Linked DNA regions of Homo sapiens. The protein of the gene in region 5 interacts with the protein of the main gene of each other region in a pairwise test. Each region holds a gene or a part of one and is shown on either strand. Other genes may lie near its edges. The genes, in order: U2AF2, PIAS2, ZHX1, FYTTD1, DDX39B, RNF4 and SDCBP.

What was found.
Region 1: the proteins of DDX39B (region 5) and U2AF2 interact in binary tests that used the Homo sapiens proteins (3 or more experiments, as listed by UniProt).
Region 2: the proteins of DDX39B (region 5) and PIAS2 interact in a two-hybrid assay, tested with the Homo sapiens proteins (one large-scale study listed by IntAct).
Region 3: the proteins of DDX39B (region 5) and ZHX1 interact in a two-hybrid assay, tested with the Homo sapiens proteins (one large-scale study listed by IntAct).
Region 4: the proteins of DDX39B (region 5) and FYTTD1 interact in binary tests that used the Homo sapiens proteins (3 or more experiments, as listed by UniProt).
Region 6: the proteins of DDX39B (region 5) and RNF4 interact in binary tests that used the Homo sapiens proteins (3 or more experiments, as listed by UniProt).
Region 7: the proteins of DDX39B (region 5) and SDCBP interact in binary tests that used the Homo sapiens proteins (3 or more experiments, as listed by UniProt).

Annotation. Positions count from the first base shown.
Region 1 is NC_000019.10:55,661,535-55,665,034, reverse strand, and holds part of U2AF2 (splicing factor U2AF 65 kDa subunit), read right to left. Parts: intron 3,265-3,500; exon of another isoform or gene 3,205-3,264; intron 2,534-3,204; coding exon 2,417-2,533; intron 1,430-2,416; coding exon 1,291-1,429; intron 1-1,290. UniProt on the Homo sapiens protein: Plays a role in pre-mRNA splicing and 3'-end processing. By recruiting PRPF19 and the PRP19C/Prp19 complex/NTC/Nineteen complex to the RNA polymerase II C-terminal domain (CTD), and thereby pre-mRNA, may couple transcription to splicing.
Region 2 is NC_000018.10:46,827,008-46,830,507, forward strand, and holds part of PIAS2 (E3 SUMO-protein ligase PIAS2), read right to left. Parts: intron 2,861-3,500; coding exon 2,727-2,860; intron 1,124-2,726; coding exon 952-1,123; coding exon of another isoform or gene 936-951; exon of another isoform or gene 1-935. UniProt on the Homo sapiens protein: Functions as an E3-type small ubiquitin-like modifier (SUMO) ligase, stabilizing the interaction between UBE2I and the substrate, and as a SUMO-tethering factor.
Region 3 is NC_000008.11:123,267,787-123,271,286, forward strand, and holds part of ZHX1 (zinc fingers and homeoboxes protein 1), read right to left. Parts: intron 1-3,500. UniProt on the Homo sapiens protein: Acts as a transcriptional repressor. Increases DNMT3B-mediated repressive transcriptional activity when DNMT3B is tethered to DNA. May link molecule between DNMT3B and other co-repressor proteins.
Region 4 is NC_000003.12:197,748,513-197,752,682, reverse strand, and holds the start of FYTTD1 (UAP56-interacting factor), read right to left. Parts: upstream 2,801-4,170; 5' UTR 2,712-2,800; coding exon 2,609-2,711; intron 2,437-2,608; exon of another isoform or gene 1,861-2,436; intron 1-1,860. UniProt on the Homo sapiens protein: Required for mRNA export from the nucleus to the cytoplasm. Acts as an adapter that uses the DDX39B/UAP56-NFX1 pathway to ensure efficient mRNA export and delivering to the nuclear pore.
Region 5 is NC_000006.12:31,535,504-31,539,003, reverse strand, and holds part of DDX39B (spliceosome RNA helicase DDX39B), read left to right. Parts: intron 1-148; coding exon 149-241; intron 242-2,320; coding exon 2,321-2,504; intron 2,505-2,554; exon of another isoform or gene 2,555-2,630; intron 2,631-3,500. UniProt on the Homo sapiens protein: Involved in nuclear export of spliced and unspliced mRNA. Component of the TREX complex which is thought to couple mRNA transcription, processing and nuclear export, and specifically associates with spliced mRNA and not with unspliced pre-mRNA.
Region 6 is NC_000004.12:2,496,606-2,500,105, forward strand, and holds part of RNF4 (E3 ubiquitin-protein ligase RNF4), read left to right. Parts: intron 1-401; coding exon 402-516; intron 517-3,500. UniProt on the Homo sapiens protein: E3 ubiquitin-protein ligase which binds polysumoylated chains covalently attached to proteins and mediates 'Lys-6'-, 'Lys-11'-, 'Lys-48'- and 'Lys-63'-linked polyubiquitination of those substrates and their subsequent targeting to the proteasome for degradation.
Region 7 is NC_000008.11:58,577,261-58,580,309, forward strand, and holds part of SDCBP (syntenin-1), read left to right. Parts: intron 1-772; coding exon 773-948; intron 949-2,362; coding exon 2,363-2,534; intron 2,535-3,049. UniProt on the Homo sapiens protein: Multifunctional adapter protein involved in diverse array of functions including trafficking of transmembrane proteins, neuro and immunomodulation, exosome biogenesis, and tumorigenesis.

The DNA.
Region 1 (3,500 bases), on a different chromosome or scaffold from region 5:
ATGATGGAAAAGCACTGGGCTGAGCGCAGTGGCTCATGCCTGTAATCCCAACACTCTGGGAGACTGAGGTGAGCGGATCACTTGAGGTCAGGCGTCGGAGACCAACCTGACCAACATGGTGAAACCCACCCTCTACTAAAAATACAAAAATTAGCCAGACATGGTGGCAGGTGCCTGTAATCCCAGCTGCTCGGGAGGCTGAAGCAGGAGAATTGCTTGAACCCTAGAGGCGGAGGATGCAGTAAGCCGAGATCGTGCCACTGCATTCCAGCCTGGGTGACAGAGCGAGACTGTCTCAAAACAACAACAACAACAAAAAGAAAAGCACTGGAGGCCAGTGAGGGACCTAGCCCAAGTCCTGCCTGACACAGATGTGCCTCCGTCTGGGGCTCCACATCGCCTGCCCTGAAGAGCTGACTCAGTTCCTAAAGGGCTCCTCGAACAGTGAGTACCCGCCAGCAGAACCCCACCTCCTCCATGTCCCAGGCCTGAGACACAGCCGCACCCTGACAGGGCATCAGACAAGCCCTCCCTCAAATCCCATTCATCAGCTACAAGGGTCAGCCAACTATAGCCTGTGGGCTGACAGGGCCCATCACCTGGTTTTGCACATCCTGCAAGCTTTCTAAAGGGAGACCATTCTGTGGCCTGTGAGAAGCACAGGAAAGCCCAACCTCAGCAGCCACGCGTGTCGAGGTGTGCCGGCACACAGCCAGGCCCACGCACGCAGACACCGTCCGGCTGCTTTCACACACAGTGACATGGTCGCCAACCCCTGGTCTGCTATGTTACCTACCAATTACAGATGATGTTCAACACAGCTATGGGGAATGGCCCAGAACACAAGATTCAAGGCAAACACTAGGAGACAAAAACAAGTGAATACCCAGGTGCCAGACCCCACAGCAGCAGCTTTGCTGCCAACCGTCGACACACAGCAGCCCCGACGGGCACAGACTGAGCCCTCCAAGGTCCCACAGCCGCAACGCAGGCACGAGGTCCAGGCCACAAGCCCCTCGCTTCCCCAGCACCTTTGGTCTGATCCTGGCTCTGCCACGTACAAGCTGTGTGTCCTCAGCAGGTGACAGCTCATTCTCCCGGCCCTAGGCACCTTCTCTACCAGCAGGAGAGCACCCCACTCACAGAGACTTAGGGGAAGCAGGGAAAAGGCACCTATCTTCCACAGTACTTACACAACTTCCTAAGCCACTCCAGCTGGGCTGAAGGGATGGACAGGCCATGGGAACAGGACTGGGGGAGAAAGGGGCCCTTAATGGATCCCCCACTCACCAGGCACATAGACGGAGGGGTTCTCTGACATGCCAGGAAGCGGCTGGTAGTCGTGAGGCCTGCGGATCTTTAGTGACTGGCCCTGGAAGATGATGCCATCAAAGGCCATAGCCTGGGTAGTCTCGTCCACTGAGCGGAACTGAATGAAAGAGAAAGGAGTGGTGAGGGATGGGGGTCAGGGACTAGTACAGCCCCTAGTGTTCCAGGATTGGGATTTCCTCTTTCCTTTCACTCATGTGAACAAATACAACATGCCAGGCCCCAGGCTGGGCACTGGGAGTACAACAGACACGCATGTCCCTGCTGCCAGGAGCTCACACTCGACCATTAAAAACACCAGGCACCCAACACAAACACAGAGGCAAACACACAATTGCAGGCTGTGATGACACGGAAGAGGGACAAAGTGCTGAAAAGGGATGTTACGGGAAAGGTTAGTTGAACGGGGAGATGACAGTACTGGAGTCTTTCTGGTGAGGGGGACATTTCAGCCCATCTCCGGAGCAATGCAACTGCAAGTGGACTGCAGTGAGGCAAAGACAGAGTGAGAGGGACAGAGTGAGAGGGAGTGCTCAGACAGTGAGAGGGAGTGCTCAGAAATCTCTGCAGTAAGCTAACACTGCCCACACCTTCACAATACTTCATGAGAGTTATCAGTCCACCAAGAGTCGAAAATCAAAAACCAAGGCCTTTTCCCGACAGTTGAGAAACACAGACACAGAAGACTAGTTAGGAACATCAGTTAGCTGGGGTAACAGAAGACTAGTTAGGAACATCAGTTAGCTGGTGTAAAGAACTCTAGCCAAGCAGGCAGGAGCATGGTAGGTTCTGGGAAGGTCAGTGTGGCCAGAGTGCAGAGAGGACTGGGCCGGAATGGTCTGGAAAAGGCCAAAGAGGTCTACAGAGGCCAAACAGGCCTCTCAGGTCACACAGAAAGCAAATGGAAGGCAGAAAGTAGGATCAGATCTGTAATGCTATAACAGGGCTCACTTCAGCGACCGGGTGGAGAAGAGGCTGCAGAGGGCCTGGTGGAAACAGCACAAGGCAGCTCCACACAACATCAGCCTAAGGGCTGGGCCCTCACATCACACACGTTTCCTGGACCTCACTCACTCCCCCAGCTCACCTCCAAAAAGGCAAAATTCTTGTCCTGGTTAATCTGCACAGCCAACACTGGGTTGCCAGGGGCCTGGGTCAGCCCCCCCAGGCGCATCTGGGCGTTGAAGAAATCCATCATGGCCTCCTGCAGAGGGAATAGGAGACAAGGGGGGGGGCGGGGGAAGGGAGGTGGAGAGAGGAGGGGAAGGGTGAGAGAGGGAGACACAGAGGGGTTTGGGGGTAAGGGGAGAGGGATGAGGGGAGGGAGGAGGGGGGGAAGGAACAGTGGAATATGGGTGGGGGTGTAGAAGTCAATAGTAAGAACAGAAGCAAGAGAGAAAATGGGGAGGAAGCAGTAGCAAGAGACGGCCAAGGGCAGGCGATGGACAGGCGTTGGGGGACAGCCACAGGGGCCCCAAAAAATCAGGGGAAAGGAGAAGATTGTTCAAGAAAAGGCAGAGGGCATGATGACAACACAAAATGAAGAAAAACACGAAACACAAGAGATGAAGAGACAGAGCACACAGGAAGGGCCACCCAGTGGAGACAGACAGAAAAGTGGCAGGAAAGTAGAAAGGAAGTGGCAGGCAGGGGCAGAGACGAGCAAAGGACAGAAAGGGAGAGCAGGACAGAGACGAGCGAGGAGGAGGAAGTCAAGAGTGCAGGGGCAGGAGAGGAGGAGTGTAGGGAGGAGGGGCAGGGACGGGAGGGGAGGAGAAAAGAGTGATGTGGAGGAATCTGGCCCTGGAGTCCGGGGGCTGGTTTATCAAATGTAGCAAAGTGCAGGTTGAGAAAGTCAGAATGGACCTTACTTGCCTTCGACGATGGTAGCAAACTTTTTGTTGCTACGAGGGATCTCAGCCCCACAATATTTCACTTTAAAGAGAAATGGAAACAACTCTTTGATCTCGGGATTCTCAGGGGGTGCCACAGGAAGGGGTTGGGGAGAGGGGAGAGGGAAAAGGAGTGGTGGGGAAGGGGGAGGTCAGGGGCGATCAAAAATAAAAGAACAGCGACCATGGGAGGGACGTGGGGGAGAGGATAGGGGACAGGCGGCAGAGAACGAGAGGCGTGTCAGAAAAAAACTGAGGGGCAGCGTGCGTCTGTGTGTG
Region 2 (3,500 bases), on a different chromosome or scaffold from region 5:
TTGAAAATATTCTACTACTGAATCATGGTGATGATTGCACAGCTCTATGTATTTACTAAAATCACTGAATTGTGCCATTATATACTTAAGATGGGTACATTTTATGCTATGTAAATTATAACTCAGTAAAGCCATTAGAAAACCAAGTGGACCAAGAGGCCAAAAAGATGACACTAGCAAACCCAAGTTTGAAAGAATGTGTTCGTAGACAGCCAGGAGAACTCTCCTGTTATCTCCTTTTATGGTTCAAAACCTCTCTGAAAAAGCAACTATTGTTAAATACCCAAACCTGATTTTTAATGCAGGTCAGTAATGCCTTCTGCCAGATAACTTACAGAGAATCCACGCTAAAATTCAGGTAGAATGCCATCCTACCCACCTATATTTTGCCCTGGAGAGGGTGAAAAGGGAAAGGAATCAATTTTTATTGGGAAATTACCACATGCCTGACACCGAGGCTTTCTTTCATCTCATTAAAACCTGAAAATGATCCTGTAATATAGGCGTTATTTAGCTCCATTTAACAGAACACAAAAAAGAGGCTCAATCAAATTAAGTATTTCATCTAAGATCACAGAACAAGTAAGCGATGGTGTGCCAAAATTGGAATCCATACTTGTCAGATTCCCAGTTCCACACTCCATTACACCAGACTTTCTCATCTGGTCTGAGATGCCAAATTTCCTTACAAACAGGTTCAAGAAAATAACAAAAAGTCTCAGGTAGGAAATAAATACCTCACACGCTCACTTTCCAAAGATGTAAATATTTTCTCCATCAAAATTTGCTTCCTATAAACAATGTGCTTACTCGAAAATATTTCAACTCAACAAAGGCAAATTAAAATAGCCTTCTACAGTTATGCCATTTCCCAAAGAGACATTTATAAATCTATCCAAGAGCAATTAGTTGCAAGGGTAATGAACAATAGTGAACTATAAATTAACAAACCCTTTGGTTGGGCTGCTTTGTGTTTCTGACATAAAGATGCATTTCCTTTTGGCAGGAGGGTCTTCCTCTTCGTCAGAAGAGCTTTCTATTGTAAGATCAATAACATCTACTTTCTTCTTGCTTGCCTCACTGGCTACAGTCACTGAACAAGGCTTACTGAGGACGCTTGAACCTGCATGTAAAGAAACAAAAGGAAAAAAAAATTAAAGGTATAACACAAATAAACTCTAGTGGTAGAGTCTAGTATATTCAGTATAGTATGTTCCTGACAACATATAGCCAGTGAAGCCACATACTCCAACCCATGGACAAATACCAACTCCCTAACTCCAGACCTCTGTCTGTAAAATGGTTGTTCACCTAGGGAGACAGGTGAGCACTATTCCTTGACAGATGGTTAGAAGTCTCATTCAGACAGAATGTTCTTAGTTATGCCTCCAATACCACTGAAGGATTTGTGCAGCTCCTACTGCTCATCCTGTCTCTGCAGGTCAGCAGTCGTTTTACAGAAAGACACGCAGAGTTAGGGAACTGGTCTCAGGTCATGGGACAAGAATGGGTGAGTTCAACAGCTATGTATTCTCGCACACATGTGGCACAGTTAGCTCAGAACCAGATATTTCCATTCTAGCAATTATGCTTATATCAAAGAAAGTACAGACTTTTCACCATAAGCCAGAACTTGATAAAAACTTTCATCTTGATAAGTTGAAAAAAACCCAAACCTCTCAATTAAGTTACTAAGACATTTAAACTTTTCTTATGAATTATCTGCTAATCACGTAGGTTCTTTCTACCCACAAAGACAGTCTCACATACCATATTTGTTAACTCACATTTTCACAGAAAAGTATGTTATTATCTGTAATGTATTTAGTTAAAAATGAATGACAGTTGATAATGGAAAAGCAACAGAAACTTATCAACTAAATCACTCCCCATTTTTCTGAAAGATGAGAGAAACCTTGGTCACTGCACTCAGGTTTAGTGTCAATCGCAGAGGAATAATTAATAATGGCATAAATCCTTTATTTTTTCCCCTTTCTTCTTACTCCATTCATTACATTGTTTGTTAGAACTTCAAATGTAATCAGAACAAAACTGAAATGCAGTGAGTAGACTGTTAGATAAAAAGAAACTCTAAGTTCACGTGTGGGTTTCAATGAGACTGTTAGATAAAAAGAAACTCTAAGTTCACCTGTGCGTTTCAATTACTCCAAATGCCCTCAGTTTCCCTACTTAGTGTGGATGGATGCAGGCAGTTGATGGATGAGTATACATTCTAGGTAATCAAGGCAATGTTAAAATTCTTCTCCACAAAGAAATGGAAGGTAACAATTTGTTTACTTTCTGAGCAACTAACCTGTGACCATCCCCAAACCACCAAGGCCATTAACCAATGATGCAGCCTCTCTAACCTCACCTCCACCTAGGGTTCCACCTACAGATACTCTAAGAACAATTCTGAAAAACTGTCCATATAAATTCATTTGTGACTTTTTGTTTTGTAACAAACATCATATTTTAAAATGATTTTAGATGAATGTTTCCTTTATTCTACACAGGAAAAATATACTATGAAATAGCTGATAAGATGGTATAAACTTTAGCACATTCCTTCAGGAAAGAATAAAAATCATTTGGGGGAAAACTATATATCATCAAAAGACTGAGTCAACAAGCTGAATTCCAAACGTATAGTTCTAGGGGCCAAGATTAATGATAATGTTGCACGAGTCTCACTGCTTTACTCTCTGCTGCTATTCTACACATACTTTCTATTTTTGTACACGGTTGGCTGGATACTTTCATAGCTTCTTTCTTCGGTCTCATTGGACACCAAGAACCATCTTCTTGGAATTTGATCTCATCTACATCAGAACAGTCATTGAGAATTTCCATAAAAAGCCTAAAAAACAATTAAGAAGTACATACATGTGATCAACAGCTTTGCCTAAAGGTGAAATAAGAAAGTAATACACATTACCTTGAAAACATAAGTAATGTTAGCTGACCCCCTTTTCTTTTGGTATTGCAATACTTTATACTTTACAACAATTATTACACTCCCTTTGTCCTATGTTTTAAATCTGTAACAGGCAACATAATAGTTAAGTAACTTACTGAGCATCACCTGTGTAACTCAATGAGTATAAATGGCTAGAGAGAAGTAGATACCTGGAGCCTCCTAGCTGAGGCTGGCAGTAAGAACAACCTCTAACACAGCACAAAAAACAAACATCAGCAGATAAAGGTTACTATATAGTAAAATAATTTATAAACTTTAACTTCGAGAAAAAAGGATAATGGGGTAGGGGAAGGAGGGAAGAAAAGGGAAATAAAAGAAGTCTCAATAAATTTAAAATAAGTGTATTTGAATTAAGTTCAAATTAAGTCCGTACCAGAAAAACCTGAAAACTTGGAAACTAAACAAAAGAAACATGAGTCAAAGATAAAAATAAGATTTTAAACTGAATGAAAATAAAAATGTAATAAAATTTGTGGACTGTATTATTTAAACACTGAAGTAGTATTTAAAGGAAAATTTA
Region 3 (3,500 bases), on a different chromosome or scaffold from region 5:
AGGTTGGGAGTTTGAGACCAGTCTGACCAACAAGGAGAAACCCCGTCTCTACTAAAAATACAAAATTAGCTGGGCGTGGTGGCGCATGCCTGTAATCCCAGCTACTCGGGAAGCTGAGGCAGGAGAATCGCTTGAACCGGGGAGGCAGAGGTTGCAGTGAGCCGAGATTGCGCCATTGCACCCCAGTCTGGGCAACAAGAGCGAAACTCTGACTCTAAATAAATAAATAAATAAATAAGTATACAAAGGTTATGAAGACAATTTAGTTAAACTAAGAAATGGGAGTAGTTGTATATGTTTATGTGTTAGTACATAAACCTAGTGATATTTGTATCCTAATTTATTATGTTAATCAGAATGGAGAGGATTATTAATGCTGACAACACAAGCCAAAACAAGTTAAACAAACTAGTAGTACTTGATCTACAAACATGGGGTTATCTAACAAAATGACTGGTGTTTAGCCATGTCGTTTTTGCCTGAAAGCTACTACCAAATGGCTTTACAATCAGTGCACTGTGAAGTATTAACATCATGCAATCAAATAAACAGAAAATAATTCTCTGAAAATTCAATTACTGTCCAAATATGTTGTTGTATATAATCTAGATCAGTTAAACCCATCAGAAAAGTTTAATAAAGCTACAATTGCTTTTCTTACTAGAACAGTCATAAATAACACTTTTGAAGGGTTAAAGCATTTTGGTTGTATTCTTTTTTTTTTGAGATGGAGTCTCACTGTGTCGCCCAGCTGGAGTGCAGTGGCGCAATATCGAATCACTGCAATCTCCGACTCCCTGGTTCAAGCGATTCTCCTGCCTCAGCCTCCCGAGTAGCTGGGATTACAGGCACACGCCACCACACCCAACTAATTTTTGTATTTTTAGTAGAGACAGGGTTTCACCATGTTGGCCAGGATGGTCTCTATCTCCTGAGCTCAAGTGATCTGCCCGCCTTGGCCTCCCAAAGTGCTGGGATTACAGGCATGATCCCTAACCGGCCTTTTGTTGTATTCTTTAAGCACTATTCTCTGTAAACTATAATGAATAAATATTAAGGAAGAGTATTTTCCCAATTAACCTTATTTTTTTATTCCTGCTACTATTACATACAAGTTTATGAAGAAACTTCTCACATCAAGAAATAATGTAAATACACCAGTCCTTTAGTAAAATACCTCTAGGTTAGGTTAAAACTTAGGCTGAATAAGTACACTATTTTCATGAAAAGCAAAAGAGCATTTTCCTGGTAGGCCCAGTGGAGCATCTTATTATCTCTGTAGCCTGGGACTCTACAGTTTCATTTCCTGGTATCTCCTTGTTCCGCCACTCGTTAGCCATCAATCTACAGGATGTGGACTAGAAGAGAAGATAGGAAACAGCTGCCAAAGAGGGAAGGTTATTTTCCAAAATGAATTATTAATACTTTAGGAATCTGGTAACCTACTTCAATCCATTCTTAAAATCACACAGTAATTGCAAGATATTTTACCGAATGAGTCTCTTGAGAAGAGCTGCCAAGACATGTAAAGGCACCAGGATACCAGAGGAGCAAAAATGAGCTCATCAGTGCTTTTGAATGAAAATCCTAGTTGCCTGATGTTATTTAAGTTCCTGATACTGGGATTACTTTAGAACATTTCTATCTAATTCAAAGTATTTTTCTTAATTTAGTATGAGTGAATTCCAAAAATTAAAGAGCTCATCTCAGCTATGTACATTATATAATAAAACAGAACAAGCTGTTCTGGTAGTAGATGGATTACAAAAAAAGACTGAGAGCTTGGAATTTGGAACAGACTGGGTTCAAATACAGCATGCCACTTACTAGCTGTGTGACTTTAGAAAAATGGCTTAGCCTATCTGTGCCTCAGCCCCATCATCTATAAATGGGACTGGTAATATTAATAGGATACTATTTACTTAATAGGGTTGTTGTGAGGATTGGAATAGGTAACACGTGTAAAGTTTCTGGAATATTCCTTGGTACTTAGAACACAATGAATGTTAGCAAAGAAATCTTTCTTTAAAATTTGCTAACTGTTGACAAGTGATAAAATACTTTAAGAATCTGGGTAACAACCAACCAACAAAATTTATTTGCCATTTCATACCTCTGAGCATATTAAATCATGCTGGAACAAGTTGGCTTCAAAAGGCAGATACTAATCAATCAAATTTAACCTCTCCCCCCACAAACTTTTTCTGACCTTAGCTTCAAAATAAATCATTACTGTATGACATATTTAAGGGGTATTTCATAGAACTAGCAAACATCTGATATAAGTAATTTTATCATAGTAACGAGGAGAAATTGTTCTCATGATCTTCCCCACTCCCAAGTATAGCCCATGTCTAGCAAAATTTTAACAAACTTCTTTTTAAGAATATTGATGGTAAAAGAGAATAAACTTAGAAGAAAAATATAATTATTAGTTTAGTGCTTAGAAATATCAGAACCTCCTATCTTCTTTCATTTCTCACTAAAAAACAAAAAAGGAAAAGACTTTTAAGAAGGGGAAAAAGGAAGTTAGAAATCTTGAGAAATAGGAAATCACCAAAATTTAATGAAAGAGTTATTTTATTTACAATAATATATGATATGGCTATGACTTCGATATTTTAATTTTGTTAAGATAAATTCTGATAATATTTTTTAAAATCTAAAACTAAGAACTGAAAATTAAAATCTTGCATTAAAAATGATTTATTTGGCTGAGTGCAGTGGCTCACACCTGTAATCCCAGCATGTTGGGAGGCCAAGGCAGAAGGATTGCTTGAGGCCAGGAGTTTGAGACCAGCTAGGGCAACACAGTAAGACCCTATCTCTACAAAAAAAAAAATTAAAAATTAGCCGGGCGTGGGTGACACATGACTGTAGTCCTAGCTACTCAAGAGGCTGAGGAGAAAGGATCGCTTGAGCACAGGAGTTTGAGGGTGCAGTGAGCCATGATCATGCCACTGCACTCCAGCCTGGGCCACAGAATGAGACCCCGTCTCAAAAAAAAAAAAAAAAAAATGTATTCAACTGGCTCCCTTGAATAAACATAATTCTTAAACTGCTCATATATACTTATTTTACAAAGTATATCATCACATTTGTTTAGACCAAAGGTATACAGTCTTACCTCTTAAGTTGGAAACTGATTGTATAAAATGCCAAGATTAAGTATCTTTTAAGATCAAAACCTGGCAACTACATACAAAGTTACATATTAATATTTACTTTAAGAATATCCTGTATAAAATGCAGATCTCCAAAATGTAAACTCAAATGTATATTCTGATTAATAATCTAAGTCAGCAACTTTAGTCATGCAAATCTGGTTATTGATGACTACAAATATATCAGAGCAACAAGGATACAATAAAATTTATCAATAATAGTATAGAAACATTGGCTCTTATTCTAAAGATAGTATCAGTTTTAAAAACAGAACTATAACTTACTTTTGAAACTACGTAGGATTATTTAAAAGGATTTTAAGTTCAAAAAATTTA
Region 4 (4,170 bases), on a different chromosome or scaffold from region 5:
AAATAACAAAGCCATATATACATACACATATATATAGTGTATGTATAAAAATAACCAAGCCATAGACATACATACACATATATGTAGTGTATGTAGAAAAATAAAGCCATATATACATACACACATACAGTGTATGTATAAAAATAAAGGCATATATACAGACATACTACATATAGTGTATGTATAAAAATAAAAGCATACATACAGACATACACACATATATATAGTGTATGTGGAAAAATACAGTGCTGTGTACCAGGTCCTGTTCTAAGCAGTTCACATATGCCTTCTGACTCATTTAATGTTTTCAGCAACCCTATGTGGTAAACACTACTTACTGTCACCTTTCTACAGATGAGGCACTGGGAAATCATCTGCCCACGGTTACATGGTTACAAAGTGGCAGAGGCAGGACCTGAAAGGAGACAGTGTGGATCTGGATTCCATGCTGTCAATCACTAGGAGTACAACCCTCACAGACTTATCATGAGGATAAACTGAGTTAATATATAAAATGCTGGCCGGGTGCGGCGGCTCACGCCTGTAGGGGAGGCCAAGGCAGACAGATCACCTGAGGTCAGGAGTTCGAGACCAGCCTGGCCAACATGGTGAAACCCTGTCTCTACTAAAAATATGAAAATTAGCCGGCCACCAGCGCTGGCGTGTGCCTGTAATCACAGCTACTCGGGAGGCTGAGGCAGGAGAACTGCTGGAACCCGGGAGGCGGAGGTTGCAGCGACCCGAGATCACACCACTGCACTCCAACCTGGGCGACAGAGCCAGACTCCGTCTCAAATAATTAATTAATTAATTAATTTAATTTAATGCTTAGTCCAGGACCTGAACTGAGACAATGTGGTTCTGGGTTCCGTGCTCTCCATCGCTAGAATCCTCACAGAGTTATGACGAGGATAAACTGAGTTAACATATAAAATGCTTAGTACAGGACCTGGTAGGTAGTAAGCACTCAATAAATATTCATTATTACATTATTTGTTGGCCTTACCTCAAAAGGTTTCTCTCTCTTTTTTGCGGGGGGGGAGAGCGGGGGGAGACAGGGTCTCGCTCTGCCGCCCAGGCTGGAGTGCAGTGGCGCAATCGGCTCACTGCAACATCCGCCCGCGGGTTCCAGCTATTCTCATGTCTTAGCTGGGATTACAGGCGCGCGGCCACCACGCCCGGCTAATTTTAGTATTTTTAGTAGACATGGGATTTCACCTTGCTGCCCGGGCTGGTCTCGAACTCCTGGGCTCAAGCCATCTGCCTGCCTCCGCCTCCGCCTTCAAAGGGCTGGGATTGCAGGCGTGAGCCACCGCGCCCAGCCCCAGCTTTCTCATTTCTTACAAGCTCACTACTAACCAGCAGCAAGGCAAGACTTGAGGCCAAACCTATTATTTCTGATCATTTGCTTAGTTCACATACTGGATTCTGACTGTGGCAATCGTAGAAATCAATAGTTCCCATCTCACCTGGAACCAAAAACGTTCCAGATAAACCACAACAAAAGACACACAAGACAAATGGGAAGAAATGAAAACCGAAAGAAGGTTTCCAAGACAGTTATCACTCTAAAGACCGTCCTGGGAAAGGGTACGCCTCGGAATCCACTAGTCAGGTACTTTTCAAATATCCGAAAAACTGCCAGCCAAACACCTGGCAGAGCTGACTTACACCCAACGCCATCACTTGAATCCCGACAAAAATATTCGTACTTTTAGCCCACCTAAGCTAACCACAGCGGCTGGTGCCTCGGTAGTGTCAGGGCTGGATTTTAATGGAATCACCAACCTCCCGGTTTTTATATAATCGGCAAGAAACCACGCCACCCTCTCAGATGCGCTCAAGAACCCCACGCTTTACCTGGCTTCTCAGCGAGCCACAGCAATCATCTCTCCTTCAAAGATGTTTGCTTTCTCCCCCATTAGCTAGCTCTGAGGCCTGGAGAGGGAGACTGTGCTTTTCTAGGCAGCGCTCAATACACAACCACATCCCACAGGCGGCCGAGCGCTGCTTCCTTTCTGACAGACGCTCCGGGGCCGCGGCCGGAGGTGGCCCCGAGAGTCGCGCCCGGCAGCCATGGCCGGCGCCGGCCTGGAACGCCCGGCGACCAGGGAAAGCTCCGGAAGCGCTGGTTTAACCGACCGCAGCCCCGGCCGGGCTCTCCAAGACCTTTCTTCAGAGAGAACGGCTCGGTCGGACCATTCCCCTCGCTCCCCGATAACGCCCACCGCGAACGCGCTCCGGGGAAACCGGCAGATCTTTCCTCACAAAGAGCCGGCGAGCGGCGAGCCGTAGCCCCTCCGGGGAGAAGAGACGCCCCCCGCGACCCTGCGAACCTTCGGGCCCGCAGCGCCCCTGCCCCCGCCTCCACAGCCCCTCCTCCGACTGCCGCGGCCGAGGGGACGCCCGGGTCCCTCGCGGTCCAGCCGGGCACCTGGCGTCGAGCCTGCGCTCCCGGCTGTCCTCCGGGCCTCCGCTCGGGTCCGCCCACCAGCGAGAAAACTCCGCCGGCAACTGCTGCCGACCGCCCCTGCCCCCACAAACCGCGCCGCCGGCTTCCACCCGCGCCCTCCCCCGCACTCCAACTCGGTCCAACTCGGCCCCTCACCCAAAGACATATCTATTTTGTCGAGGTTTTCATTGCTGCGGGCCTTCGGCGGCGGCGAAGAAGTCGCCGTGGCTCCCACCAACCGGGTACCAAACCGGTTCATGGCTGGAGACGTCGCGCCGAGAGCGGGCGCGGACAAGGCCGGAGTCGCAGGCCTGCCACCTCCCACTCGCGCACGCAGCCCGCCGCACCGAGGGAGCGCGCACGCGCCGGCGCCGTCCTCGGTCTCCACCCGCGGCTGCGGGCGGGGCGGGGCCACCGACACTCGCGGGCGACCAGAGCGGCCCCGCGCCGTGACTCGCTCCTAGCGGCCCTCGCAGGATCGGACGAGGCATTGCAGCCGCTGTGCTAGGCGCTCGCGAGGACCGCCGTTGTGAGCAGTTCGACTTTCCGCCCAAACTGGGGGATGCTAGACCGCGGGCACCTCTGAATCTTATGCCTTCAGTGATATAATCCTCCGTGTCCTTCGAGTCCCTCCTGCTGCAGACAGGTCCCCTATACTTCGGTACACACGAGCCTTTCGCGCCCACCGCAACGCAGCCTCGGGAGGCAGGACAGACCCCTGCGAGTGTAGATTGCAGCTGCATCCCAGCTCCCCCCTCCCTGGCACGCTCCTCCACCTACAGCTGCGCTGAGCTGCCGCATCTGAACGCAAAGCAAACGCTGCAGTGACGGTTCCTGCGTCACCTTAACTCCAAAGTAAATGCTAACGTTTCCCGTGTCTGTACCTTCTCTCAATCGGCACTCTCAAAACATCTGGCACGGTGTTCACTACCCTAATAAGACCTCAGCTTCCCTCGGGAGGGGTAAGTACCTCTGTTGATGTAGCTGCATTTTCTTCTAATTCATTTGCATTGGGAATGGATAGAAGGGTTCGTTTACTTTTTAATCATCCCTACGGGAAAACAGTTTAATATTTGATGAATTCCTGCATGATAACTTTTTTCCGTTTACAACATACGGTATTTACCTCTCTTCTTACCTCATTCTCCTTCCCTGAAGTAACTGCGTTTATGTGGAAGCGTTTAGGTTATATCACCCTCATACAGCTTAAAACTATCTCGGATATTTACATCTAAGGACAATACCAGATGCATTCTGTCCACCTAGAAATCTCTGTCGCCTTTCTCCTCTCCAATTCATAAAATGCAAAAATTCCTTTAGCATGGAAACCAGCCATCTCAAAACCACAGTAGCCTTTGCTTAATTTAGTCATGTCACAATGTCATGTGGCTTCCAACTTCAACACCAATGACACATTTACTATTTTTTGCTTGGGGATCCCATGTTTTAAAATATTTCTTATGCATGTCACACTTAAAAATTAAAGCCAGCTGTTCCAGCTCCCCTTTCCAGGCCTGAATTTAAAGCAAAGCTTGCAGTGACAATTTTGCGGTCACCTTAACAATAAAAGTAAATGTGAACGTTTCCTGTATATGTAGCATGGATAAAACCAGGAGTCTTCACACAGATTATGTTTCCAGCTGAACTCAAAGAACCATGACTTTTTTGTAAGCCTAGTAGTCTTATCTTGGGGAAATGTATGATTTTTGTTAGGCTTT
Region 5 (3,500 bases):
TCTGTCGCAAGCGTGGGGTTCATGATTTAGATCACATAATTGAAGTCATTTATTATCGGCCCAGGTGTGTTTTTGTGACAGTCACTTCCCTAGAGGGGATAATGAAGAGCTACATTTACCATATGTCTCCGTCTACTTCCTGCCTAAGGTGTCTGTACTGGTGATGTGTCACACTCGGGAGTTGGCTTTTCAGATCAGCAAGGAATATGAGCGCTTCTCTAAATACATGCCCAATGTCAAGGTAAGCCAAGGTAAAGAGACCTGAGAGTGAGGGTGTGGCAAGTTGGAGGGATAAGAAACTTGTAGGCCAATAGTCTCTTTAATTTTGGAGAAGCTTTAGTTTGCTGTGGTGTAACAGAGTGTTGAGTTCCTATGTAACAGGAGGATTCGTAATTGGGCTATGGATGATGCTTAACACAAGACCACCCTTTTCTTACTACTTTATACTGACTTTGAATCATATCAGTTTAATAATTTTGGGGTATGTGGCAGAGAAAGCCGGAAACTTTAAAACAGCTCCAGTGGTGTGTGAATATTGAGGATTCTGGCCAAGTGCACAATGGCTTACACCTGTAATCTCAGCAGTTTGGGAGGCCAAGGCGTGTGGATTATTTGAGGTCAGGAGTTTAAGACCAATGTGGCCAACAGGATGAAACCCTCTCTCTACTAAAAATGCAAAAATTAGCCGTGCATGGTGGCACACACCTATAGTCCCACCTGCTTGGGAGGCTGAGGCAGGGGAATCGCTTGAACCCAGGAAGCAGAGGTTGTAGTGAGCTGGGATTGTGCCATTACACTCCAGCCTGGGTGGCAGAGTGAGACTCCCATCTCAAAAAAAAAGAAAAAATCTGATTGAAGTTAAGCATTTTTGGCAAGAATCCTTCATAGGTGATACTGTATCTCCTGTTATGCCACAAATCTGGTCGACTTATGTTAGTTATTTTATTTTATTTTTATTTATTTGTTTTGAGATGGAGTCTCGCTGTGTCCCTCAGGCTGTGAGTGTAGTGGCGCGATCTCAGCTCACTGCAACCTGCGCCTCCCACGTTCAAGCGATTCTCCCGCCTCAACCCCCCGAGTAGCTGGGACTACAGTGTGCCATCATGCCTGGCTAATTTTTGTTTTTTTTTAGTAGTGACAGGGTTTCGCCATGTTGGCCAGGCTGGTCTCGAACTCCTGACCTCAAGTGATCCACCCACCTCGGCCTCCCAAAGTGCTGGGATTACAGGAGTGAGCCACTGCACCTGGCCTCATTAATGATTTTAGATTTACCATAGGATTAGCGTCGTGACAGTCTGATTCCACAGTTGTTCTTTTCCCCCTTGAAACCAGAAAGTAGTTTCTGGTGTTATTTGATACTGTACCAAGGCCCAGATCCCCAAACAACTATTCACCTAATGGTTTTAACATGAAATGATAATATTTAGCCCGAAGCAGTAATTTCATGGGGTTTGTGTGAAAAGAGTTTGAGATTCTGGGTTTATTTAGGAAACCTTAATGTTCCATGTGTTTTTTGTGGTACTTTACACTAATCTGGTGATTTCTTGCTGTCCTTTATTTATTTATTTTTTATTTTTTGAGATGGAGTCTCGCTCTGTCATCCAGGCTGGAGTACAGTGGCTCAATCTCGCCTCACTGCAATCTCCACCTCCCGGGTTCAAGCGATTCTCCTGCCTCAGCCTCCCGGCTAAATTTTGTATTTTTTGTTTTTTAGTAGTAAATTTGTAAATTTTGTATTTTAGTAGAGATGGGGTTTCACCGTGTTGGCCAGGCTGGTCTTGAACTCCTGGCTTCAAGTGATCCACTTTCCTTGACCTCCCAAACTGCTGGGATTACAGGCGTGAGCCACTGGGCCTGGCTTTATTTTATTTTTATTTATTTTATTTCTTTTTGAGATGGAGTATCACTCTTGTTGCCCAGGCTGGAGTACAACGGTGGGATCTTGGCTCACCACAACCTCTGCCTCCCAGGTTCTCGTGCCTCAGCCTCCTGAGTAGCTGGAATTATAGGCGTGTGCCACCACACCTGGCTCCTTTATTTTTTAAATGAAGCCTGGCCTCATAAATGAAGGAAGTTGGTTAGATTAAGTCAGTAGAACTGAATTATTGTCCTGACTGCTCCGACTAGCCATGTAACTTTAGGCAATCACCCTCAGTGTTTGGTGGGGGGGACATAAAATTTTTAAATTAGGTGCCCTCTAAAGTTAGTTTTAGTTTGGAAACATGCTAAAAATTGGTTTAGCTCAAACAGAGTGGGAACCCTGGGGGGATTGGACTCTTTCCTTCCTCTGTTTTGAGACTCTTTGCTTCTGGCTCGGCAGGTTGCTGTTTTTTTTGGTGGTCTGTCTATCAAGAAGGATGAAGAGGTGCTGAAGAAGAACTGCCCGCATATCGTCGTGGGGACTCCAGGCCGTATCCTAGCCCTGGCTCGAAATAAGAGCCTCAACCTCAAACACATTAAACACTTTATTTTGGATGAATGTGATAAGATGCTTGAACAGCTCGGTGAGTGGCAGTGCTGGGGCTTGGCTAATGCTGGGGAGTTGTTCTTTGGAGCCAAATGATGTTTATTTGAAACAGGAGCACCTCAGTGCAAGGACGACTCTTATCTATCACCCATGACTGATGGCTCTGGGTTCCCTGGTTGGTCTTTATTATGCTTTTAAGCACAGTAAAGGGTGTCATCTATCATCTTTCTATGATTTTTGTTTTTAACCTTTGAGAATAGGGGACTTTGATAATTTTAGGCATAAGTCATCACCACCACCACCGTTTTCATTATAGATTCATATACTGGGAGTCATAGCGGAGATTCTAAACTGAAAGAGAAGACAGTACCCTTCTGGCATCTCCAGCACAGCATTTACAGTCAGAATTTATAGCTGAATAAGTGTCTAGACTCAGGTCTGGGATTAATGTAGAGAGTGTTTGTAGCAGTTTGTGTGATGTGGTATTCTAGTGTGCCAGGTGGGGTTAATGGAAGATTTTTCTGTAAGAATTGAATCTTGGTGAATGAGAGTGGGGTTGGACATAGGCCCCATAAGTCATTACAAATGATCTTTGGCAATTCTATATGGTGAGCTATAAAGGTGGGCTCCAGGTAGGGATGTCATATTTGCCTGACTTGATAGAAAAGTAATCCAGAGAGTCATAGATGGACTCTGATATCTGGAATATAATATGTGCTTGATATTTGTAGTCTGCTGAAGGCTGGCTGGGGCTTGGGCAGGAAAGGGTTGGGAGAAGGTCCCATAAAGCATGTTTTGAAGGCCTTGAGAGCCTCTGCACTGGGCTTTATCCCCATTTCATAGTTGGGAACTTTGGGGTTTTACCTTATTTCTTGCTTGGTTAAAACAAACAGCTGGAATCTGATCCCACTTCTTGATTCCAAGTCCATTGCTCTTTCCATTGTGTTGTTACTATTTCCAGCAATCTTCACCTCACTGGGAAGTCTACCTCTAATCTTTGTTTATCATACCTGCTTATTTTCTCCTACAATTT
Region 6 (3,500 bases), on a different chromosome or scaffold from region 5:
GCCTGCCACCACGCCCAGCTAACTTTTGTATTTTCAGTAGTGATGAGGCTTCACCATGTTGGCCAGGCTGACCTTGAACTCCTCACCTCATGATTCGCCCACCTCAGCCTCCGAAAGTGCTGGGATTACAGGTGTGAGCCACCATGCCCAGCCGACCTGCTGATAGTTTGATAAAACAGAAGTTTTACTTTCTGGAATTTCTACTCATTTTATGTTTTGGATGGTTTCTCTCTCCGTAAGCATTCAGTATTCTTGAATCTCAAGTTTTGAAAGGAGCCCTAACTTCAAGTCTACTCGCTGGCTTCTTAATGAAGTGAACCATTTCTATTGCCCATTTAGTTCTTCCTGAAACCCTGACATTCTGGTGTTCATGTGACTCTTCTTTCCCCCTTGCTACTCAGAGAAAGCGTCGTGGTGGAGCAATAAATTCTAGACAAGCTCAGAAGCGAACTCGGGAAGCAACCTCCACCCCCGAGATCTCCTTGGAAGCAGAACCCATAGAACTCGTGGAAACTGGTAAGATTGCCAGGGACACTACAACTGTGGGGTGTTAAAGTGGAGAGAGAACACTGTACCAGGGTGAGCTAGTAGAAGGTGCTTTCAGTGTCTTTAGAAGGCCTATGCAGTCTCACACTCACCATGTACAACTCAAAGCTTCACAGATTCTGAAATAGCTTCTCAACTGGGCTAACTGTTCAACTCTGGTAATGTGCAGCAGTGGGGTAGGATCCATTTAAAAAAAAATCTAGCGCAAATGAGATAGCCCACCTTTTCTATCTGAAACTGCATCCCCAATTGCTGGACCTTGTAAAGTACTTCGCTTTCCTCTTCTGTTTTTCATTAGGACATGAAATCACCCAAGAAGGCAAACTTGTCCACAGAGCTCCCTGTGTTGGAGCTTGGTATAGGCAGAGGCCAGATTGGATTTCCCCTTCTGCCTGCTCAAGAAGTGGTTGATGGCTGGCCTAAGTCCCTTTGCTCTGCATATATTGTTTTTATAACTAGGATACCTGCAAACTGGCATTTTATTTTTACTTATTTATTTTTGAGATAGAGTCTTGCTCTGTCGCCCAAGCTAGAGTGTAGTGGTGCAGTCTCGGCTCACTGCAAGCTCCACATCCTGGGTTCACGCCATTCTCCTGCCTCAGCCTCCCAAGTAGCTGGGACTATAGGCACCCGCCACCACACCCGGCTAATTTTTTGTATTTTTAATAGAGACAGGGTTTCACCATGTTAGCCAGGATGGTCTCGATCTCCTGACCTTGTGATCCACCCGTCTCGGCCTCCCAAAGTGCTGGTATTACAGGCGTGAGCCACTGCACCCGGCCATGCAAACTCGCGTTTTAAACAGAAGAAACTTAGTGCAAGATAAATTTCATGGGCCCCCCAGGAGAAATGAAGTTCTCTATATGGTCTCTGAGTTTCACTTCTACAAATGAGTTCTTGAAAGCCTTGACTTGAGGCTAGGATCCTGGCTCTAGACCAAAAAGGAACGAACTGCTTTCCGTCATGGCACTTGTCATCCTCTAGGCAGTCTTACCCCTGTGTGTACTTAGGGCTGCCCATTAGAGCACTGTTTTGTTTTTGTTTCTGTTTGAGGCAGAGTTTCGTTCTGTCAGCCAGGTTGGAGTGCAATCGCGTGATCTCGGCTCACTGCAACCTCTGCCTCCCAGGTTTAAGCAAGTCTCCTGCCTCAGCTTCCCAAGTAGCTGGGATCATAGGCGCCCACCACCACACCCGGCTAAATTTTTTTTGTATTTTTAGTAGAGACGGGGTTTCACCATGTCAGTCAGGCTGATCTCGAACTCCTGACCTCAGATTATCCACCTGCCTTGGCCTCCCAAAGTGCTGGGATTACAGGCCTGAGCCACCCGCCTGGCCTAGAGCACTGTTTTTGTAAGAGCCCAGAATTGTGTTCACCAGAAAGAGAATGGTTCAATAAATTGTTGTATATCAGTATATGGACTGTTGGACAGCCCTTCTTTTTAATAAAGAATGCAATAATTTTATATAAATTATATTGTATATGTAAGATTATCACGGTTTTTATTCTTGTGAAACTTTATGATACAAGAAAATAAAACAGGCCAGCCAGATTGCTTGAGCCCAGGAGTACCAGACCAGCCTGGACAACATAGTGAGACCCTGTCTCTATAAATAAAAAAATTAGCCAAGTGTGGGAGGCTGAGGTAGGAGGATCACTTGAGCCTGGAACATTGAGGCTGCAGTGAGCCGTGATCGTGCCACTGCACTCTAGCCTGGGCAACAGCAAGACCCCACCTAAAAAATAAATAAAAGAAGTTACGTTGGGTTGGGCGCCATGGCTGGCTCCTATAATCCCAGCACTTTGGGAGGCCGAGGCGTGCAGATCACCTGAGGTCAGGAGTTCAAGACCAGCCTGGCCAACATGGCGAAACCCCATCTCTACTAAAAATGCAAAAATTAGACGGGCGTGGTGGCGGGCGCCTGTAATCCCAGCTACTTGGGAGGTTGATGCAGGAGAATCACTTGCACCTGGGAGGCAGAGGTTGCAGTGAGCCGAGATCGTGCCACTGCACTCCTGCCTGGACGACAGAGCGAGACTCTGTCTCAAAAAAAAAAAGTTAAATGCATTACAAGACACTTTCCCCAAATATTAGACCAATACTGTTTCTTAAAAAACTTCATTTAGTGTTTTGTTGTTGTTGTTGTTTGTTTGTTTTTGAGATGGAGTTTTGCTCTTGTTGCCCAGGCTGGGGTGCAGTGGCGTGATCTTTGCATCCCGGGGTTCAAGCAATTCTCCTGCCTCAGCCTCCCGAGTAGCTGGGATTACAGGCATGTGCCACCACACCTCGCTAATTTTGTATTTTTAGTAGAAACGGAGTTTCTCCATGTTGGTCAGGCTGGTCTCGAACTCTCAACCTCAGGTGATCCGCCCACCTCAGCCTCCCAAAGTGCTGGGATTACAGGTGTGAACCACTGTGCCTGGCCCATTCCGTGCTTTTTAATATTAATATTAATAGTAATCAGAAATAAAAATGGTTGTGCGTCATTTTTTACTTTATATAAATGGAAGTTGTACGTTAACTGTTTGGTCCATGTCCTTCTCACCTTTATCCTGTGCACATGTAGACATCACAGTATACCCTAAGGGCTGAAAGGCAAGCTTCACAACAGATGCAACCCATTTTGTATGTTGAGGTTCTAGCTATCAGTATATATCACTGTTATTCTCCATCCAACTAGGGAGACAAACTTGAGAGATAAATGGAAATTAAAAGTTTGTCCTTGGCCGGGCACGGTGGCTCACGCCTGTAATCCCAACACTTTGGAAGACTGAAGTGGGTGGATCACAAGGTCAGGAGTTCAAGACCAGCCTGGCCAAGATGGTGAAACCCCATCTCTACTAAAAATACAAACAAAATTAGCCAGGCATGCTGCCAGGCGCCTGTAATCCCAACTACTCGGGAGGCTGAGACAGAGAATTGCTTGAACCCAGGAGGCGGAGGTTGCAGTGAGCC
Region 7 (3,049 bases), on a different chromosome or scaffold from region 5:
GCTTAGGATTGTAGAAGTAGATGCACTTATATTTTACCAGGCTTATTCTTCTTTTATACTTACCTATTTATATTTTGTTCAACTTCTGATTGAGATTTTACATAAGTAAAAATATCCATGTGAGTGTAGTTATTGGTTAACAGTATTTGAGTTTTCTGTATTTATTTCATTGTGTGTTCTTTATAAGCCTGTGCATGTGGATTTAATATGCCCATCTTTTTAGTCTAACAAATAAACTTTAATCTTACTTGATTATACACAATTTAGCAAATGGGTAAAGGAATGCTTCAGCTCAAAAGGTAGAATTATGACCTTAAACTGTCATTTATTAAGCTGTAAAAGAACTCATCAAACTTTCTAACATGTGACTCGCTTTTCCCCTAAATATGATTATGTACTGATAATTTGGTATTCTATCAGACTCAGACGCTTGCATTTATTAAAGTTGTCCTACTGTATTTTCCTTAGTTTTGTATTCCAAGTTGAAGGGGGGGATTGTGGTTGGTCAGGTGGGTCATGATTTGGTATAGAAATTGCCATTGAAATCTCACTTTTTTGCCTTATTCTTTGGAGTTGCTGTCTTGATAAATTTTTCAGTTTCTTTTGAGGTGATAACTTAATATACTCATATAGTTTTTCCTTTTTTTCTTTTTCTTTCTTTTTTGTCACTGGGGTAGAGTTTTCAACATAAACAGTTGTTTCCTAATTTTCCAGCGTTTAAAACCGTATCATAGTAGTGGTAAATGACAAAAATTATTTTCTTATTATCTAGGGTATATTTGTTCAGCTAGTCCAGGCTAATTCTCCAGCCTCATTGGTTGGTCTGAGATTTGGGGACCAAGTACTTCAGATCAATGGTGAAAACTGTGCAGGATGGAGCTCTGATAAAGCGCACAAGGTGCTCAAACAGGCTTTTGGAGAGAAGATTACCATGACCATTCGTGACAGGTAAGCTGTTACTAAACAGCTCAAATGAAAATTCAATACTAGTTTTCCATTTTTTTGGGCTTTCAGAGTTTGTGAGTATATTATTTTGTTGCAGAAAATGATCAAATGTTATTGATGAGCCTTATAGTCTTGCAGTTGTGTGGTGCAGATTTTTCTTACATTGTTTTTAAAGCATTCTGATACGATACCTTATTTCAGAGTTTATAGGACAAATCTCTCTAGAAAATAGAAAACGTATGTTGGAGAAGTAACTGAGTTGCAGGGCATCTCTGGGCTCACTTTCCAACTTACTGCTTAGATACATCCAGCCTAGGGTGTTCACACACAGTGGTCCCTCATTGTGAGGGTCAGAGCCCATGCAGACTTCCAAGTAGTATGGGAGTTCTGAAAACCGTATCAAGACTTTTGGGTAGTTATGAAGCAGTAGTTTTCAAGAACATGGAATATTCTATTTAGCAGCTCATTCATTTAGAACTTAAACATTTAGCACATGAAATAGGGGCCTCCATTTATTTTCTTGTCTACTCCATACCCAATTAAGGGTAGACGTATATTGCATTGTTACAGTAAGCTTTGAGTTTTTGTTCCTTCTCAGTGAAACTTCTGTTTTATCTTTGTGTTTCCAGTTTCTCATTCAGTTTAGGTATTTCGTAAATGTTTCAGATGAATGTCCTTTTTACTTTCTATCTAAGCAGAGTTTCAAAGAGTAAGTTGTACTAACAGGAAGAAATGCCTCTTCTGAATTTAATAATGTAAACACAAGTTGATCCTAAAACCCTTATGATAACATGATAACAGAGTTTATAGAGAATCAAGCAAATGTGACTGCTATAACAACTCTAGAGGGACAGCTGGATGCCTTTTAATAATAGCTGCATGCCTCCCTTTCCAAAGGGGCTTGAGGAACTTAAGTCTTACTGCTGCTCTAGTTTTTCTTTTCAAAGATAGCAATGTATAAAATTTTCAAAATCAAGATGTGAGAAATATTTTAAAGGTTTTAAATAAAAGAAATAGTCCTAAAAATGATTTGGCTCTAGAAAATACCAAAAGTTAATAAAAAATAAAAATTATCTTTACCACTGTGATTTAGTTAAAAAGCCTATGTCATTCTTAATGCTGTAAAGTCTAATTATAAAAGAAAAACATATTGATAAAACCATATAAAGCAGTTGTCTTTTATACTTAAAGAAGGAAATGTTGATTAGTAAATCAGTCAAACCATAATGAATAAACTTAAAAAAAACTTTTACACAAAGATGTTCCGTGAATGTATAAAATCAGAGCCATAAGTTGCTCTTATTAGAAACAGTGTTTATTATAAAAGTATCCAATATGGCAACATTTATGCTATATGAAATCCATTAAAATGTTTAGCTTAGAATTAAGTTTTTAATTGAACCAATTATGTTTGTAGGCCCTTTGAACGGACGATTACCATGCATAAGGATAGCACTGGACATGTTGGTTTTATCTTTAAAAATGGAAAAATAACATCCATAGTGAAAGATAGCTCTGCAGCCAGAAATGGTCTTCTCACGGAACATAACATCTGTGAAATCAATGGACAGAATGTCATTGGATTGAAGGTAAGGAACAGACTTTGTGCCATGTTCTGCTGCAGTTTTAGAAAATGTCTGTCTTTTGACTGTATTTAGGTGGCGCTGTTTTCATATTGACTTAGGTGGGAGATGGGGAACGTGGGGCCTGAACTCTTGGTCTGGCCAGTCACCGGAATTATTTGGGCTGTCATCTAGAACTACAGTTCCTATAACAAGTGGGCTGGAATAAATGATCTCAGAAGTACCTCACACTAGAATTCTGTGGAAATATGGGCAACAAAGATTTAGAATATGAATAGTGGCCCAGCATTTCTCAATCCAGGAATATAAGGAAATGAATAATAGTTTTGGTTCATATTAATACTTTATTTTTATAGTTTTTCTCCTCCACAAATTCCTAAATAAGTCTGTCTTAAGGTCAAAAAGTTTTAAGCATGACCTCCTCATTTCATAGAATTTGATTTAGAATACACAGTTAATAAGAGGAGATGGTAATATTGTATATGGGGAAAATTATCTAATATTCAGAAAGGAAAAGTTTT